Homo sapiens: one gene and its partners. The protein of the gene in region 1 interacts with the protein of each later gene in a pairwise test. Each region holds a gene or a part of one and is shown on either strand. Other genes may lie near its edges.

The links. Proteins that work in one complex are often made in the same cells at the same time.
Region 2: the proteins of FRA10AC1 (region 1) and THOC1 interact in a two-hybrid assay, tested with the Homo sapiens proteins (one large-scale study listed by BioGRID and IntAct).
Region 3: the proteins of FRA10AC1 (region 1) and CWC27 interact in a two-hybrid assay, tested with the Homo sapiens proteins (one large-scale study listed by BioGRID and IntAct).
Region 4: the proteins of FRA10AC1 (region 1) and GATD3 interact in a two-hybrid assay, tested with the Homo sapiens proteins (one large-scale study listed by IntAct).

The regions. Positions count from the first base shown.
Region 1 is NC_000010.11:93,691,819-93,696,845, forward strand, and holds part of FRA10AC1 (protein FRA10AC1), read right to left. Parts: intron 3,120-5,027; coding exon 3,043-3,119; intron 912-3,042; coding exon 828-911; intron 276-827; coding exon 191-275; intron 1-190. UniProt on the Homo sapiens protein: May be involved in pre-mRNA splicing.
Region 2 is NC_000018.10:257,285-261,547, forward strand, and holds part of THOC1 (THO complex subunit 1), read right to left. Parts: intron 3,837-4,263; exon of another isoform or gene 3,434-3,836; intron 3,021-3,433; coding exon 2,902-3,020; intron 2,447-2,901; coding exon 2,398-2,446; intron 1,992-2,397; coding exon 1,896-1,991; intron 1-1,895. UniProt on the Homo sapiens protein: Component of the THO subcomplex of the TREX complex which is thought to couple mRNA transcription, processing and nuclear export, and which specifically associates with spliced mRNA and not with unspliced pre-mRNA.
Region 3 is NC_000005.10:64,803,430-64,807,692, reverse strand, and holds part of CWC27 (spliceosome-associated protein CWC27 homolog), read right to left. Parts: intron 3,465-4,263; coding exon 3,307-3,464; intron 95-3,306; coding exon of another isoform or gene 1-94. UniProt on the Homo sapiens protein: As part of the spliceosome, plays a role in pre-mRNA splicing. Probable inactive PPIase with no peptidyl-prolyl cis-trans isomerase activity. As a component of the minor spliceosome, involved in the splicing of U12-type introns in pre-mRNAs.
Region 4 is NC_000021.9:44,140,183-44,144,445, reverse strand, and holds part of GATD3 (glutamine amidotransferase-like class 1 domain-containing protein 3, mitochondrial isoform 1 precursor), read right to left. Parts: intron 4,197-4,263; coding exon 4,104-4,196; intron 3,505-4,103; coding exon of another isoform or gene 3,372-3,504; exon of another isoform or gene 3,283-3,371; coding exon of another isoform or gene 3,048-3,282; exon of another isoform or gene 3,031-3,047; intron 1,242-3,030; coding exon 1,085-1,241; intron 1-1,084.

The DNA of each region.
Region 1 (5,027 bases):
AATTTCCATAGGCCTTTTGTAAACTCCACAGCTGCAGAGGTTAAATGGTCCAAATGACACATCATAAACGCAGGACAACTGAGTCTAGAATTAGCATCTTTAAAAGAATAATGTGGGGCATGACAGTATAATAAAAGTTAATATTTTACTTGAATAAGAACCTCTTTCCATAAATATGTGGAAAGCATACCTTATTTTCTTTATATTTACTGAGATCTGCTATGCAGTATTCCTTAAATAATTTATCATAGTATTTCTTAGCAAGTCTCTTCTCCCTAGACCCATGAAAATATAAATATTATACATTTAGAAACTCAACCATGGTTTGCTACTTTCAAGTGATGTCAAAGAATACATACTACATAAATATTAATGTTTTAAGAGAACTATTACTTACATGTGCATGGAATATCTGGATATTAACTATTAAAAGTGGTTCACTCAGGGAGGGAAATTGGAGAACTGACAGTCACAAATAAGAAGGAGAATCACTCTTCACTGTTTACCCTTTGTAATGTTTGGATTTAAAAAAACATTTTCAGGTATGACTTTTTTCTAAAACAGCAGCATATAATAACATATTACAAGATAACACACAATACTGTAAAAAAGAATGTTATTTTTTTGAAGACTAAGTCAAACAATGAGAAGTCAGTTAAAACTGCCAAAAATTACCAAAAGAACCAAATAATCCTAGGCTTGATTTTATGTCCTTGATTCAGAACTGTTCTATGAAGGGGCTGAACACCTTGACTAAAAAACCACTCAGAAAACAGGAGAAACAGGACTAAAGCATTTGATGCATTACGCCTCTGATGGCTAATTACCAAGTCATGTCCATTTCGTCCTCCTCATTCCATAGGAATCTATGATTTTCTCGTATAACATCCAAGTCTGTCTTGTCATTTTCCCTGGAAAACAGAACTTTTTCAATTTAATACAAAAACAAAAGTAGTCAAATTTAGGTTAAATAGCTCTGTGAGTTTTGGAAAATTTTATTAAAAATATAATACATGAAGATAGTTTTTTGGTGAGTATAAATTTGTTCACATATTTATAAAAATATTTCAGTATTTTCAAAAGGCACTTATAAAAATACTACTACAGAAGCAAGTTAAATGGATAAGGAATCTGTCTGTAGCATTGGTTTCAATTATACAAATGGTGCTAAGTTACCAAAGCTAGAATGAGAAACCTGACTAAACACTAAATGAATAAAGTGAATGAAAATAAGTTTCATTCTAACCAACCACTCTGCTGAGATTTAATTTTAAAAAATATGAAAAGTTTTCCGTATCTCATTTTACTAGTTTCCTAGGTAGAAGACTGAGTAAAGGAGGAAGAAAGCCAAAGGGATTGACCTTTCAAAATAAAATGCTAACAGTCTGGGGGTAAAAAAAAAAAGGAAAAAAAAAAGTGATTGTTGGGAGATATAGGATAAATTGATAGGTGAGATAAATTGGGGGTAAATGAGGTGGTACTAAATTTTCTCAGAGTCCTACCAACTCAGAAAATTGTTAGAGGGAAAAAAAAAACCTCACATAAAACTAAGAAGTTCTAAGACACACACACACTATAGCAGCACAATTCGCAATTGCAAAGCTATGGAACTGACCAAAGTGCCCATCAACCAATGAGTGGATAAAGAAAATGTGGTGTGTGTGTATATATATATATATATATATATATACACCATATATATATATATACACCATATATATATATATATACACACATACATACACCATATATATATACACACCATATATATATACACACCATATATATACACACCATATATATATACACACCATATATATACACACCATATATATATACCATATATATATACACCATATATATATATATATACCATATATATATACACACACCATTTATATATACCATGGAATACTACTCAGCCATAGAAAGGAATGAAATGATGTCTTTTTGCAGCAACTTGGATGGAGCTGGAGGCCATTATTCTAAGTGAAGTAACTCAGGAATGGAAAATCAAATATCATATGTTCTCATTTATATGTGGGAGCTAAGCTATGAGGATGCAAAGGCAAAAGACTGATATAATGGACTTTAGGGACTCAATGTGGGGGAAGGCCAGAAGGGAGGTGAGGGATAAAAGACTACATTTTAGGTATAGCATACAGTGCTTGGGTGATGGGTGCACTAAAATCTCAGAAATCACCACTAAAGAACTTATCCAGGCAACCAAAAACCACCTGTACCTCAAAAACTATTGAAATAAAAATAAAAATTTAAAAAAACAAAAACAAAACAAAACAAAAAACAAGTTCTGATAGAAGAGCCTTAAACATGGGAAGGACTTTGATGTGCAAGAAATGCTAGACTGAGAGTTCTTGTTTACCTATCTTTTAAAAAGCAATCCCAAACATCAAGGTATAAAAATTTCCTTATTTCAAAGATCTTTGCCAAGAAGACACATGAGTATTCTTCAGATATTCTTTTATCACCAGGGTTGTGCCCGGCTCAGCAGGTAAAGAGTCTACCTGAGGCCTGTCCAAAAAAATGGGATTCATGAAGAGCTACTCAGGAGCTGTGGATGGTATCTCTACCTTATAATATAAAAAAGAAACTGGGGCCAGGTGCAGTGGCTCACGCCTGTAATCCCAGCAGTTTGGGAGGCCAAGACAGGTGGATCACAAGGTCACGAGTTCAAGACCAGCCTGGCCAAGATGGTGAAACCCCGTCTCTACTAAAAATACAAAAATTAGCCAGGCATGGTGGCAGGAGCCTGTAATCCCAGCTACTCGGGAGCCTGAGGTAGGAGAATCGCTTGAACCACAGCGGCACAGGTTGCAGTGAGCCGAGATCAAGCCACTGTTCTCCAGCCTGGGCGACAGAGTGAGACTCCATCTTAAAAAAAAAAAAAAAAAAAAAAAAAAAAAAAGGCACACCGGAATAGAAAGCAGGGAAGAATGACAGAATCAGAAGGCACAGTAGCTGTGGGTCTTTAAAGTTTCCCATAACCCACATTCCCTTCTATGTAAACTTCCTGATACTTACCCCAAACGCTTGAAGTCTTCTTTTTTGCCACCATAGTATAAAATATAGTCATTTACGAACTTTGTATGTCTTTGATACTGAAATGCAAAAAATTAAGGATTTTATTCTCTTAGGAGCTGTTTGGTGTCATAATATATTGCTGATTGGTGGTAAAAAAAAGCACAATATGAGTCTATTTAGCTTTTTAAAAATATTCACACACTATACATGCTTACACATTCAGAAAATCTAGAAGGGTATATATTAAATTGTTGAAAGTGAAGATTGTAAAGTACAGGCTTTCTTTTGACTATTTTTCAAGCATATACTACTCTTGTGATAAAAATATACCTCCATCTGGGGAGAAATAGAGCTTCTTATTCTATTGCTGAACTGCATATAGCCTCCTACCACCACTCATTCTAATAATCACAATATGAAAAATTTAAAAATTATAGTTTCTAAAAGTAGAGAATTTATCTTTCATTATCATAAAATATAATTTATCTATTTTAGTAATGATAAAGCCTCTAAATAGAAGATGCAACTTTTATAATTATATTTATAATTTATAATTAAATCCCAACATTAAACTTTCAAAAAAGCAAATATAAAAAATCAATTTTTATAGTCTTTTAAATTCAAAGAATAAAATGCCATGTTTTTTCAAAGCATTGTAACAAAATATATGAGCATTTTACTTTTTGTTTTAAAAAGCTCAACAGCACTCTCTCTAGAGCCAAACATGCACATAATAGCTAACCTCACCTTCTACAATATTCTCTGTGACTATTAAACATGTATAGTGATTTAACTGATCATAATGTGTACTAACAGACAATTTAATCAGATTATGGTATTTCCATATTGTAACAAACCAGTTAATATTTCAGGAAAAAAAAAAAAGAGAGAGACAGAAAAACCAAATACCTGGAGATCTGGATTCTAGCTCTTGATCTACCACTAACTGGTCACATGACCATGGCAAGTCATGTAACCTATTAGAGCTGGGGTCAGCAAACATTTTCTGCAAACGGCCAGATGGTAAATATTTCAGGCTTTGCAAGCCATATGGTCTCTGTTGCAAATGCTCAGTTCTGCCATTTTAGCATGAAAGCAGCCAAAGACAACATATAAATGAAGCATGGCTGTATTCCAATATAATTTTATGTACAAGAACAGGTGGTGGGTGTAACTTTTGCTTCCGGGAAGATGGAGTAGGCAAAGATGTACTTCTCCCTATTCCTCATACTAATAACAACTAAAATCCTTATACATTATATATCAAACATAAAAAGACTCTAAAAGGTGGAAGGAAGAAGGCGCCCCGCTAGGGACCTCCTGAAGACCTATGGTATGACATGATAGCGAGTTCCCTAGGTTTTCTTTTTGTCTCATGTATCCTAGAATTGGAGGTAAAGAAGGTGACAACCCGGAAACACCAACAGGCACGGACTAAAAAATCGTCAACAAAAGCTGTTCTCTCTAACCAAATGACCAAGAGTCAGCCTAGCAAGACAACTTTGAGACAATAACTACTCTACTCTTGTCAAACAACCCAGAGAAAACTGTGGTTCCCAGTCAGAATCGCAATTATTAAAAAGTCAGGAAACAACAGATGCTAGCAAGGCTGTGGAGAAATACGAACACTTTTACACTGTTGGTGGGAATGTAAAATGGTTCAACCATTATTGAAGACAATGTGGCAATTCCTCAAGGACCTAGAACCAGAAATAACATCTGATCCAGCAATCCCATTACTGGGTATATACCAAAAGGAATATAAATCATTCTATTATAAAGATACATGCACATGTATGTTTATTGCAGCACTATTCACAATAGCAAAGACATGGAACCAATCCAAATGTCCATCAATGATAGACCAGATAAAGAAAATGTGGTACATATACACCATGGAATACTATGCAACCACAAAAAGGAATGAGATCATGTCCTTTGCAGGGACATGGATGAAGCTGGAAGCCACCATCCTCAGCAAACTA
Region 2 (4,263 bases), on another chromosome or scaffold:
GAATAATTTATAATTCTGTTGGAAGCACAAATGTAAATTATATTAATGAAAAAGTGATAATGTATAACAAATAAGTAAATACATTATAGTTAATGAGAGCCAAGTTTCTTACTGTTAGAGAAAGAGGTTAATAAACAGATCTACTGGTGCTGGATTCAACTCAGAGGTATCAGTAGAATCTCATATTTTTTGCTGCTGTTCATGTAAAATATATACTGACAGATACAGAAACAAATACAGATGAGTATGGTTAGTATACACATATGTCTCTCCTAGCTCTGGTCTCTGAGAGGGCCTAGAAGTAGTGATACTCCAGTAGCAATGAGCACATCTTCTCAAACGTAACAGCCAATGATAACCAGACACACAAAGAGGCAAGATACCATGAGTGAGAAACAGTCAAAACAGACAGGAGAAACAGACCCACCAAGACTTATTTAAGGTATTGGCATTACCAGATACAGACAATAAAGTAACAATGTTTACCAAGTTTAGAAAACTAAAAAAAACAATTCTTAAGAAATTATTCAGAATCAGGTAGAGAGAGACAAACAGATGAAAAAATATATAAGGAGTAAAAAACAGAGGATACAGTGAGAAGGTATAATGGATGTTTAATTGAAGTTCCAGAAAAAGAAAAAGATAAAGAGGCATACACAATATTTGAAGAGATAATGGCTAAATTTTTACAAACTAGATGGAAGAATCTAATCCATACATTCAAGATGTCCACAATCCTAAGCAGGACAAATAAAAAGAAATTTACACAGAGATACATCATAGTAAAACTAAAAGAAAACCAAAGGAGAAAAAAAATCTTAAGCGCAGAGAAAAAAATGTAGATTATCTTCAAGAAGTGAGACTGACATCTGACTTGTCAATAGAAAAATGGGAAACAGAAGACAAAGTAAAGATTATTTCCCGTGAGATGAAATCCTGTATCTAGTGCCAATCTAGAATCTTATACCTATTGGGAGGAGGTCAAAATACCAATATTAACAGGAGTTTGGAAGAAAGAAAGGAAAAAAAATAAAGGAGAAGTAACGATTTTTAGGCAAAACACAGACCTGCACTGAAGAAAAGTCTAAAAGGGAAAATGATCACAGACAGAAAGCCAGAAATACAAGAAGTGGTAAATCTATATTAACCCTGACCACATAAAATAAGTATGAAAGAAAACAGCACAGACATAAGATGACAAAAAGAAAGCACATAAACCACTGCTAACATATGCTATAGGTCTTTCTACATGCAGGCACTAATGTAAGCTCTTCACATGTTTTAATTCATTTAATCCTCAGAACATATAAAGTAGGTGGTACATTAGCCCAATATTAAGGAAGGGAGGACTGAAGCAAGGAGATATTAAAATCTCGCATATTTGAACATACTGGGGAGGCGGAAGGCTCTGGAGGACAAGCAATGTCCCATTTCAGGAGCTAGATAGTGGTTATACAGTATTTGTTTCATTATTATTCGCTTTATGTACTTTTCTATATGAGCGTTATATTTCACAATAAAAATTTGTTAAAAAAAGAGAAATGAAAGGAAGTCTATATAGCTAAATAGTTGTGACTGAGAGAAAATCCAAACACAAAAATAGGCATACATTATGAAATACGGATATGATGGTTCATATCTACATGTTTCAGTGTGATTCAACTTTACATTAATAAGCTTTGAACTTAAAAGAATCCATGACTTTGTTTCAGGATTACCTGTATTATATACTAGGACTGCTATACATTTATAAGTAAAAGAAAATAAAGTGACAATTTCTATGATGTCTTTCAACTTTTTAGAACCATTTTTCTCATTATCATGACAGATTTTAATCTATTAAAAACTGGAAAAGATTTTCCTGCAGAAAACTCATTTAATGCATAAAAGCTTACCTGATTTCTCAGACAGAGGGAAAAGCCTGGCCAAAAAGAGCTGAATCCGTCCACAGAAGACTGTATTCTGGGATTTAGACAATCTTCTTAGGAGATCTAACAATATATGAAAATGAACGTTACACAGAAAAGATAATTCTATGTTTATTACAACCACACCTAAAAGTTTCTAAACCAGTGTGTCAAGAGTATTTTCCTAAAGCAGTAGTTCTTAAATTGGGGGCCGAAACCACTGCCACAAAAAAGTACTATAAATTAGGAACAAAACAAGTTCAACATGACATGAAAAAGACAAACTTTACTACGTTTCTGACTTTAAGCTTATGCCCAGAACAAAAACAGTTTAAAGTGAATAATGAGTTCTAACAAATCAGATTGTTAGTTAAAAATGCAGATACCTAATCTATCTTTAAAATGTTATCACTGGTATTTAATTCAACCATGTGTTTTTCTGGGCATATTTACACTTAAAAAGCAATCATTTTATCACTCAATTACTTACCATTGCACATACGTAGTAAGTAATTTTTCCCAGCAGAATAGAATGTATTCTGAAATTAAGACGGAAATTATCACTCTTCTTCAGAACTTGTTACACATTCTTCAATAATAAGTTGCCAGAGTGAAATATTAAAGAACACTAACATGCACTGAGAATCTACTATGCCACTTTCACTTTTTTTAAGCAAATAACATTTTCAATGAAATAAAAATATTTTCAGATATAAGAAAACATGATACTAAGTAACTGTTTTAAACATGTGAAAGTGTGAATTTTCAAGTTAATTTTTATTACACAAATTAAATCAAATTTTGTATTTCAAGTTTTTCTCCACACATGGTTTTTATTTGGCTCTCCCGAGAGAGCAGTATATAATTTTTTCATAGGCAGAAACTTGTTGGCATTCAGCAATACTACAAATAAATTTAAAAAAAAAAATCTACCCTCAGAATTCTGGATCTATAGAAAGATAAAGTTAGCAGGAAAAGAAACTAAGGCACTTACTGATTTCCAAGTAGCAACATTTTTTTCCACAAAAGTGAATATTGTGTCACACTGATCCAAAGGAAGACAATCCAAAACATCTCCCAACAATACAAAAGGTGTAGATGCGGTACAAATACCTTCAAGTGGAGCACAAGCCAATTTAAAAGTTTAAAAAACTGTAGAGTAGAATAGCCTATGAAAAATAATTCTGAAGAATATCTTAAAAGGTACACTTTGTTACTCATAACAAGGTTTTAAAAGGACAAGAAGTGGAAGCAACCTAAAAGTCCCCAAATAGGACATACTTAAGTAATTTTTGATATGTGCACTCAGTAATGATGACAATAATTCTTGACAAGATCTAGAGCATTTACTATATGTCAGGCACACTAAGTACTTTACATATACTAACACATTTAATCCTTACAATCCTATGAGGTAGAGCATATCATTATTTGCATTTTATAGAATGGGAAAACTGAGACACAGAGAGGTTAAATAACTTCACCAAGATCATAGAGCCAGTAAGTGGTAGAGCTGGGATACGAACCCAGGCAGTCTGGCTCCACAGTCTGTTTTCTTCACCACTAAGCTATTCAAAAGAATATAATGCAGCCAATTAAAAATGATGGTTATAACGACTATAATAACTTGGAAAAATGCTTATGATATAATGCTAAGTGAAAAAAGGCAGGATTCAAAATTGTATGTACATATGGTTATGACAATAAAAAAAATTCTTAAAAGACTATAGAAACTAAAACCATTATACCAGATGAATGGTAGCTTTTAAAAGTAGAGGAATTAAGAGTACTGTTTTCCCTTCTTATTTCTAAATGTTTTGTAATGTTGCTAAATTGTCTTTGTGATTTGAAAAGATTATCTTCAAAAAATAACAAGGTTTGATATTAACTATGATTCAACATTTAAAATAACAGTATTGTTTCAGGGGAAAGAATGGAAAAGTAGAAAGTTACTGTTTAAAGAACAACAAAATTAAGATTTTTCTTAAGAAAAGGTCTACGTAGTCTATCTAGACTACTTAGAATACTTTTATATCCCTACTCATTCTTCCTTCTATTTTAAGGCAATGAGTACTTACTAACACTCATAAGTGTTTAAGAAAAGTAGTCACTTAGGCATGGTATATGGAGGAAAAATATCTAGGGTGATCTAAGCCCAAAACAGTGCATTAATATACTATGTCCAGAAAAAAGGAAGAAATATTTCCAGCTGTACTCTGCACTAGTAAGATCATATCTGGAATGCGACGTGAGGGATATTGCCTAGAAGCAGTGGGTGAAATAAAACAGCAGATTTCAACTCAATACAAGGGAACACACCAATAACCACATTTGTCTAACAGGACTCAAACAGTGA
Region 3 (4,263 bases), on another chromosome or scaffold:
ATCTAGAAATCCATAATAATACCAGCTTGTATATGCCTGTGTGATTCTGCTGAGCTGTATCCAGTAGTCAAGATACAGGCATAGAGAAGGTGGGCTGGAAAGAAAGTGGGATTGGTACATTTTAAAAAGGGAAGAGACAAGGGATTAGAAATCCTAGGAAGTCAGAATAGATATAAGGGTGCCGATTCTCTAAGGAGAGAAACTAGGAAGCGTTTTGGATTTGTATTTCCCCTGAGCTCTTTTTTCAAATGAACAACTAGAGACATTGTTGAGAACACATTACTAGGAGAAGATCCTACTATATGTAAACTTGTTGAAAATTATTCTGTTAAATATCATTCCCCAGTTTAAATATTAAGCACTCAATAAATACATGTGTAGGTTTAACATCCAAAAGTGATAACCAGCTTTAACAGATTCCAGATGTTTCCTTACCAATAGAAGCAATACCACACGTTTTCAGTAAAATTATACTTTGAACGGCTCATTGCTTAAAGGGCTGGTGGGCTAGTCTAGTTTCTGATCCTACTGCTTAAATGGAAGAATGACCAAAGGATAATAGAGTACTTCAAGCACACCCTGATGAAAACTCATGTATCAAGAGTACACATTTTTGAATAGATAATGATATCACACTGACATCCTATCTGGCTGGCAGCTATACCCATTATAACTCAAACTGAGCAGTGACTTTCCTTTAAATATAATTATCCCTTTTACCACGTTGTAGTTTTTCAGTACATTTGGAGCTTTCCTGTGTTGTTTTATTTTTTAACCATAAAGTTAACTTCAGAGACTCGCTGGTATAAATAACCAAAAGTACTAATGATTTGGAAATTTATTAAAATTTATTTTTATTTTTTTAGAGACAGGGTCTTGCTCTGTTGCCCATACAGGATCATAGCTCACTGCAGCCTAGAGCTCCTAGGCTCAAGCAATCCTCCCACCTCAGCCTGCTGAGCAGCTGGGATTACAGGCATGAGCCACCATGCCAGGGTCTGATTTTGGCAACTTTATGAACTGAAAAAAATACGTGGTCATGAGACAATCATGGAAATTTCTACACTAGAGGAAAAAACTGTTTCTTCCTTTTGAAATTCTGTACTTTCTCCTCTATCCTGACCTTATTTTTCTTTTGTTTCTCTTTGTAGGTAGGACAGATAGGATGAAGGAGGGAGAGTAGAGAATGTGAATAATGAAAATGTGGGGGAACAGAACAGTTATAAATAAATGTGTGCTGTCTGCACCATTTACAAAGGCACACTTTGCCAATTATTTTACCTAAAAGAATCCAACAATGTCCACAATACTCATGTTTACCTAAAATATTCAAGCCACCTTTGGAGACTTCTTATTTAATTTACTTTTCTAAGTAGAAAAGTATTTAACGTACTTTTTAAATTTATTTAATTTTCTTAGTAGACTTGCAATGCACTTGAATATAACTTTTTCCTCTACAGTGAATATACAAATTATGTGATTTTAATTTTGCAAATTATACTGATTTATAAAAAGAGAAAAATTGTTTACATAAGTAAGTGGATATATATGTTCCTATGTAAGAAATTACCATAAAAACTAAGCTTTAAATGTCTGTTAAGTCATCCAGTCTATGGTATTTTGTATAATAGCCCAAAACACTCCTCTATCAATCCATTCTCCATACTAAATACAATCTCAATATATCATTTGCCTGTAAAAACTTCAGTGGCTCTCCAGTATTCTCATGATAGATCAGATTCCTAAATCTAGCTATCAATGCCATGTTTGGTCATCAGGCCCATACTACAGCCAAGGAAATCTTTTAAGAATAACCCTTAATTGTAAGAGTGAACACAATTTTGGAAAATGCAAACTTTGACTTTTCTTAATATTAGGTAAACAATTTTTTAAAGACACTTATGAAAGGTACATTAAAAATGAACTTTAGTTCTTATACAAAATTTAGCATTGCTAAATTATAGTTTATATTATAGGGTATATAAGTATTTGAAATTGATTAAAGCCTACAAGACTGAGTTGGGAGTTTAAGGAACACTTAAATCTAACATAAATAAATATTTGGTTGGCTCATCTATTAAAATTTTTAAATATATTTTTGTTACATTATAAACCTAACCTTTAAAAAAATTCATAATTTTTTAAAATCAGAAAACACATGCCTTGAATGAGAGGAATAAAACATTATGTATCCATAATTATATTCATGATTTAACTAAAAGTTACAGTGTGAATGAGAGGTTTTTCAACTCTATGAATCTAGAAGCATGCATATGATCACTAAAATCTTTAGTCTATATTAGCTACTATGTATGGTATATATAATATAATCTAGTATGTAAAATTATTCAACAGTGATTACTTGAGTGTCAGGTGAATATTGCTGGAAAAAAGACATTTAAGATGACTCCTAAGTACCATTTCTAAATGTTAAAAGCTATGCTTTTAGTGGAAATTTCTGGGAATCATTTTTATTTGATTACATAAAGAAAAAATTGAGGGAGCTATGCAATGATAGCGTGGAAATCCTTTTTAAGTTTTTCTACATGTGGTTGAGAAACATGATAGGGAAAAAGAATGTTATTTAAATGTAGTTACATTCATATTATCCCCAAATAGTATTTGAAGAAAACAAATACTATTGTTTTTTAAAGCAATATTATTTAAAATGTATACTATAAAGTTGAAATAGAATCACAAAAGAGATAATTTTTCAATTAAGTTGAATTTCAGGAGAATAAAATGTTGAGTCATAAATCCAACAAACTTTCATCACCAGACAGTAAACTTTTCACCATTTGCTGAAATTTATTTTATGATACTACTGAGCTTAGGATAGGTATATGGTATTTGGTAAATCAGACTTGAAAAGATATTTAAGAATGTTTTCAGGCTCACTCATTTTCTTCATCAGTTTTGACAAATTTTGCTTACCGAAATTATTTGAGGATGTCTCTTTTCTTTCTATACAATTACTCTACTGCTCTCATTGGTATTTAACAAATGCATTCTTCCACATCTAGCTAATACATTATTACCCTATATATATGAAAGTATAGAGCCTTTCTAAAAAAGGATCAGAGAGAAATAAAATGGAATTGAACTCATAGGATCATTGTTATGTTTACTTTAAGCTTGGTGTATTTTATTTTAGGCCTGCTAATGGGCCAATTTGTACAACTGTTATGTTTATCAAACATTATGAAAATAGTATTTTAAAAATTAGCTGAAGAGAGGATTCAATCTGAATTAAAGTGAAATATAAAAAGACAAAAACTCTGATATCTAGCACAGTAACTGACTCACCTGCGGCTGACTGATTTCTTCTCCACTTCTCCTTCTCCAGCTGATTTAACATTCGCACTTGTGTCCTTTTTTAATTTTTTGGCAATTCTTTCTCTCATCAGGTTCTTTTCATCACCATCAATATATTCATCATGCTCTGCACTTTCATCTTCTCCATCCTGTAGAAATGGAAAATGAGTATTTGCCAGGTGCTCAATTTCCCCTTTCATTTCTAGAGATCTATTGCATCCACTGAATCTCCTTATTGCATTCTAAACTAGGTTTTTTTTTTTATTTTGTTTTCTTTTGTTTTGAATTATAAGCCCTTGAAGAATCTGCTACAGGTGGGAATAGCCCTGGGTTCTGCTCTAAGCCAACTATGTAATTATGGGATACCCCAGGAAAGGCTGTTCGCTCAACTCATGCCCAGCTCCTTTGTGCAGCAGACTTCTCCCTCTGTGTCACTCGGGCTATTCTGTCTATATTCCTATTCTTATCTCAGTGGGAAATGTGGCTTTTGAAGGCAGTTGGCCAGCATACTGACCTCAACAGGGATCAATTCAAGTAGAAGAGGTGTAGTGCAGAAGCTGAGATTTCTATAATCCAAGTCACAGCAATCACTTCTCTTGTGAAAACCCTCTAGTGGGTCCCCAACTCACTCAAGGCCCTATGCAATCTAAACCTCCCTGACATAATCTCCTACAACTCCAGCCCACCAACACTAGCCAACTTTGGAGTTGTTGTTCTCTCCAGCCTGAAACAAATACTCTATTCCAGATATCTCTTCATTGCTTGCTCTTTCATCTCCTTCAGATCTTTGCTCAAATGTTACCCTCTTGGTGATGAGATTAACCTATTAAAATGGTAGAACCACACACTTACCTCCAGTACTCTTTCATCTTCCCTGGCTTATTTTCCAAAGTACTTATCACCTATCTGATACACCATATATTTTAATTATTTGCATGTGTATTGTCT
Region 4 (4,263 bases), on another chromosome or scaffold:
GTGGCAGCACCTCCGCTTTTCAGATGAAGAACTGGCCGTGAAGGAGCCGGTCCTCATGGGGCAGGGCAACAGGCAACAGGGCAGCAGGTGGCACAACTGGGGCCGGCCAGCCACAGACCTGAGCCTCCCCAACACCATGCATGTAACCACTGGCCAGGCCTCCACACCACCCAAGACACGTGCCCCTATCTTCCTGCAAGCAGTCAGAGGCCTGGGGCCAGCCTTGCACTGCGCTCCTGCCCAGCAGGAAAGCCGCAGGGAGGGAGATGGGGCCTGACGTCTGAAGCTGCCTGTGAGAAAAAAGCTGCCCCATTGAGAGGAACTGCACCCTTCAGAACAACACCTGCAGGGGACCGGGTCCATGCTCTACTCATTCCAGTGCCTTCCGGCACCCCGGAGTGTTCTGTTCTCTCAGTTGGGCTCACATGGACATTCTCCCAGATCCAGGCAGGGCCTTCCAGGAGCCTCCCTCCAAATCTCCCTGGGCAACAGCCCCGCTGGTGTTCTTGGTCCATCATCTCAGAACTCAGGGTACACACCTCAACAGGAGGGGCTGGGGGCCGCAAGGCTGGCTGAATCACCTGGCCACCCAAACTGGCCTGAGAACTTCCGCCCAAATGAAGCCAGGAAGCCCCTTCTCCTGCACACCCGGCCGCTTTCCCCCAGCATCTCAGGAAGCCCCCGCCTCCTGCACGCCCGGCTGCTCTCCCTCCACACCTCGCACACACTCTTTCCTCACCCTCCCCCCGCTGGGCCCGGAGTGTGGCTGCCTGGGTGTTGCTGAGCAGACTAAACAGTCAGGCAAGGGACCTGGATCTGCCAGATCTGCCAACCACGCACCAGAGCTGCGCTTCTGACGTGTCTGTGACCCACCTCACACCAGCTGGGCTGTCACAGCCATCTGCTCTCTGCCCTTAGACACATGGCTGCGGTGCCCACTGGGGGAGGCCCCACAGGGAGAGCAGCAGGTGCAGCTCCCGGTGAAGAGGCCACCCACCAAGACAGCCCGGAGGGAGGGGCGTCCCTATGCACGTCTCAGGGACAAGCACGACAGCGGGCCGGGCCTGGCTACCAGGAAGGATATGACCACTTCCTTCACGCAGTGCTTGGCACCCAGGGCCTTGATGGCCTCTGCGGTCCCGGCATAAGGCCACTTGCCACCTTCCTCCTGCTCGTGGCCCACAGTCACCTCGACGCCTCTGAGCACCTTGGCCGCGAGGACAGGTGCAATGCAGCACAAGCTGAAAGGCGAAAAGAACACGGGTCAGGCAGGCTGCATGGCCTGCAGAACAGAAATTACCCTCGCCATGACCCCAGGCTGCCCTGCCACGGGAGCCCTGCCGACCCTGCCCCCTGTGAGCCTGCGCTGCCAGAAGGCTGTGGCCCATGGGATGTGATGGAGGTGGCACCAGGTGACTCAAGGCTGAGAGTGAGGTGTCCTCAGCCCCACTCCCCGCCAAGCACGCCCTGCAGGCACTCAAGCACCAGGCCAAGGACCCCTGAGGGGAACCCCCAACAGCCATGGGCTAAGCCCCAAGCCCCAGGACACCCCAGACTGGCGAGAGTCCCGGGCTGCCAAAGTCCACTCACAGAGAGGGTAATGATGTGCGGCTGCCCCAGCCCTGAGTTGTGGGGTGGTCTGTGACCCAGCAATAGATAACACAGCTGCACTTCTCATTCACACCAGCCCCCCTTCTACAGGAGGCACAACGGGCCAGGAGCAGCCTCGCCAGCCTCCGACCTGCAGCACAACTCTCAACAAGTGCAGGCTGGTGGACGCACGCCCCTGACCCTGACGCACAGGCCGCAGCAGCCCTGAAACTGAGGGTCCTGCCACACCCACCCCTGGGACCTGCTTCTGCTTCATCAGGAACCCCTCCCTGCCAAGTCAACAGAGGCCCCTGTGTGCCAGGCACTGTGCCCACAGCAGGGCCTTCAGTGACCTGTGTCGTCCAGCGCCTCATGGCCACCCAGGGGCAACAGTGGAAGGAGTACGGCCTCATTAACAGCAGCCCCATCCCCTGGCAACCTGTGGTGTAGCCCACAGCTGTCAGGCCCCACCCTGCCCTCAACACCCCGCACCCTTCATCCCTCCTCCCGCTGTCTACAGTCCTACCCACTCCCGACAGGCCCAGGTGGAAACTGCTACCGTGAGCTGTAACGAAACACTGTTAAAAACACATTTCACAGCCAGGTGCAGTGGCTCATGCCTGTAATCCCAGCACTTTGGGCAGCTGAGGCAGGCAGAACACCTGAGGTCGGGAGTTCGAGACCAGCCTGACTAACATGGCGAAAACTTGTCTCTATTAAAATTACAAAAGTTCGGCCTGGTGGCAGACACCTGTAATCCCAGCTACTTGGGAGGCTGAGGCAGGAGAATTGCTTGACCCCGGGAGGCGGAGGTTGCAGTGAGCCAAGATCACTCCAGCCTGGGCAACAGAGCGATACTCTCAAAACAAACCCGCCCCCAAAACTGCATGTCCTGAAGCAACTTCTGGCTGCCTATGAGATGAAACCCCCCTGCCGCCCTCTGCGCAGGCAGAAAGTCCAGGAAGCAGGTTCTCAGCAGCTCCCGACGCTGCGTGCAGCCGCCCAGCCATCAACTGCCAGCTACAGATGCCACAGTGGCTCCTGGCACAGCCCAGCGCCCACCTCGACTACTGCATTCAAGGAAGGGGTCCCAGCAGTGAGCGGCTGGGCCGCCTAACAGCCCCTGGCTGGCCACGCAGGCCTCTGACACCAGGCTGAGGGGTGGGTGGGGCCAGTGGGAAAGGATTTAGGTTTCCTCAGGAAAAAAGCCTGTGGGTCACCGTGCACGGAAGCCCCATGGCTGGACCGGGGAGCAGACGGGCTTGTGCCCTGCAGTTTTCAGGGGAGCCTCATGGCTGGACCGGGGAGGAGACAGGCTTGCGCCCTGTGCTGTTTCCAGGGGAGCCTCATGGCTGGATTGGGGAGGAGATGGGCTTGCGCCCCACACTGTTTTCAGGGGAGGCATGCTCAGAGGCAGTGGTTCACCTGCCAGGGGCTGTCTTGTTTCATCGAGATTTTTAATCAGTCACAGAAGAAAGGGCCATGGGCTCCTCCCTCTGGGCGCTCATCCAAGGAACACTTCTCTGACAAGGACGGGATCCCGAGGTGGAGACCATGGGCGAAACCTTCACCCCGGCTGTGACACGGCTGCAGCAGGGACCTCCTTCAGGAGCTCTGAGCCTGCACCTCTTCCTGAGGCTCCACTTTAGGGGCCTCCCTGGACAGTGACCAGGCAGGTCCTTAAGTGAGTGACTGTGGATGGGGAGACAGAGGATTCCGATAGATCCTCATCCTTGTTCGGCTGACAGAACTCGGTAGTGAGCGGCCATCGCGAGTGCGCCTCACTGATGTTCACCCACGCAAGTGCGGCTCTCGCCCTGCCAGCACCAGACGCAGCTGAGACCTGGACAGCACAGCGCCGCGTTCCAGGACCACCAAGGAGCAGGTGCCGGGAGGCTCGTGGAAGCATCACACCTGCCGAGGCGGAACCCGGCCTTGCTGGGTCACCCTCACACATCTGAGAGTGACTTCCCGGCAGCAGACGCTGAAGAGCACACACTCCCTGCGGGGCTGCGACCCGCCACGTAAGCCAAGGCGCTTACGTGGATGAAGGAGTGGGCGCCCTACTCGTGCCGCCAACCTCAGGACCCAGGCTTTGTCTGAGCAGGGACAAAGGGGCGTGGTTGGCTGTGGCTCCCCAGGAGGGAGGCCGCTGGGAGTGGATGGCGTCAGGGATGGAGCACGTGCTGCAGTGACTGGCCAGAAGTCAGCGGGGTTGGGGGTACTGTGGCTAAGGGGCTTGGGAGAAGGGGTCTGGTAAAGGATAGGGGTCCTGAGGGACTGCCTAGGGACACCTCTGGGAGCCAAGAGAATTCCAGGCCTCCTCTAGGGAAGTGCACTGTGCCTCTCCTTCCTGTTAAGTCACCAGTGACATCGTGTGAAATCCCCTCAGTTAAAACAAGAAAAGCAGCTGTGAGTTTTCAGGATCAGCGGCAGCTCCTGGCTGAGAACAGAGGCCGCGGGCCCACGCACCCTCCTCCCTCCCTCCCCGAGGCCTGCACGGCTGTACACACCCGATGGGCTTCCCGGCCTGGTGGAACTCCTTCAGGACACGCTCCACTTCTTTATTCACCTTGCAATCTTTCCCGTCCACGGCAAACGTGCTCCTACCGGGAGACAAAAGGCCTCCTCAGACAGCCTCACAACCAGGGTCTATTCCTGGGGGGCTTCCTA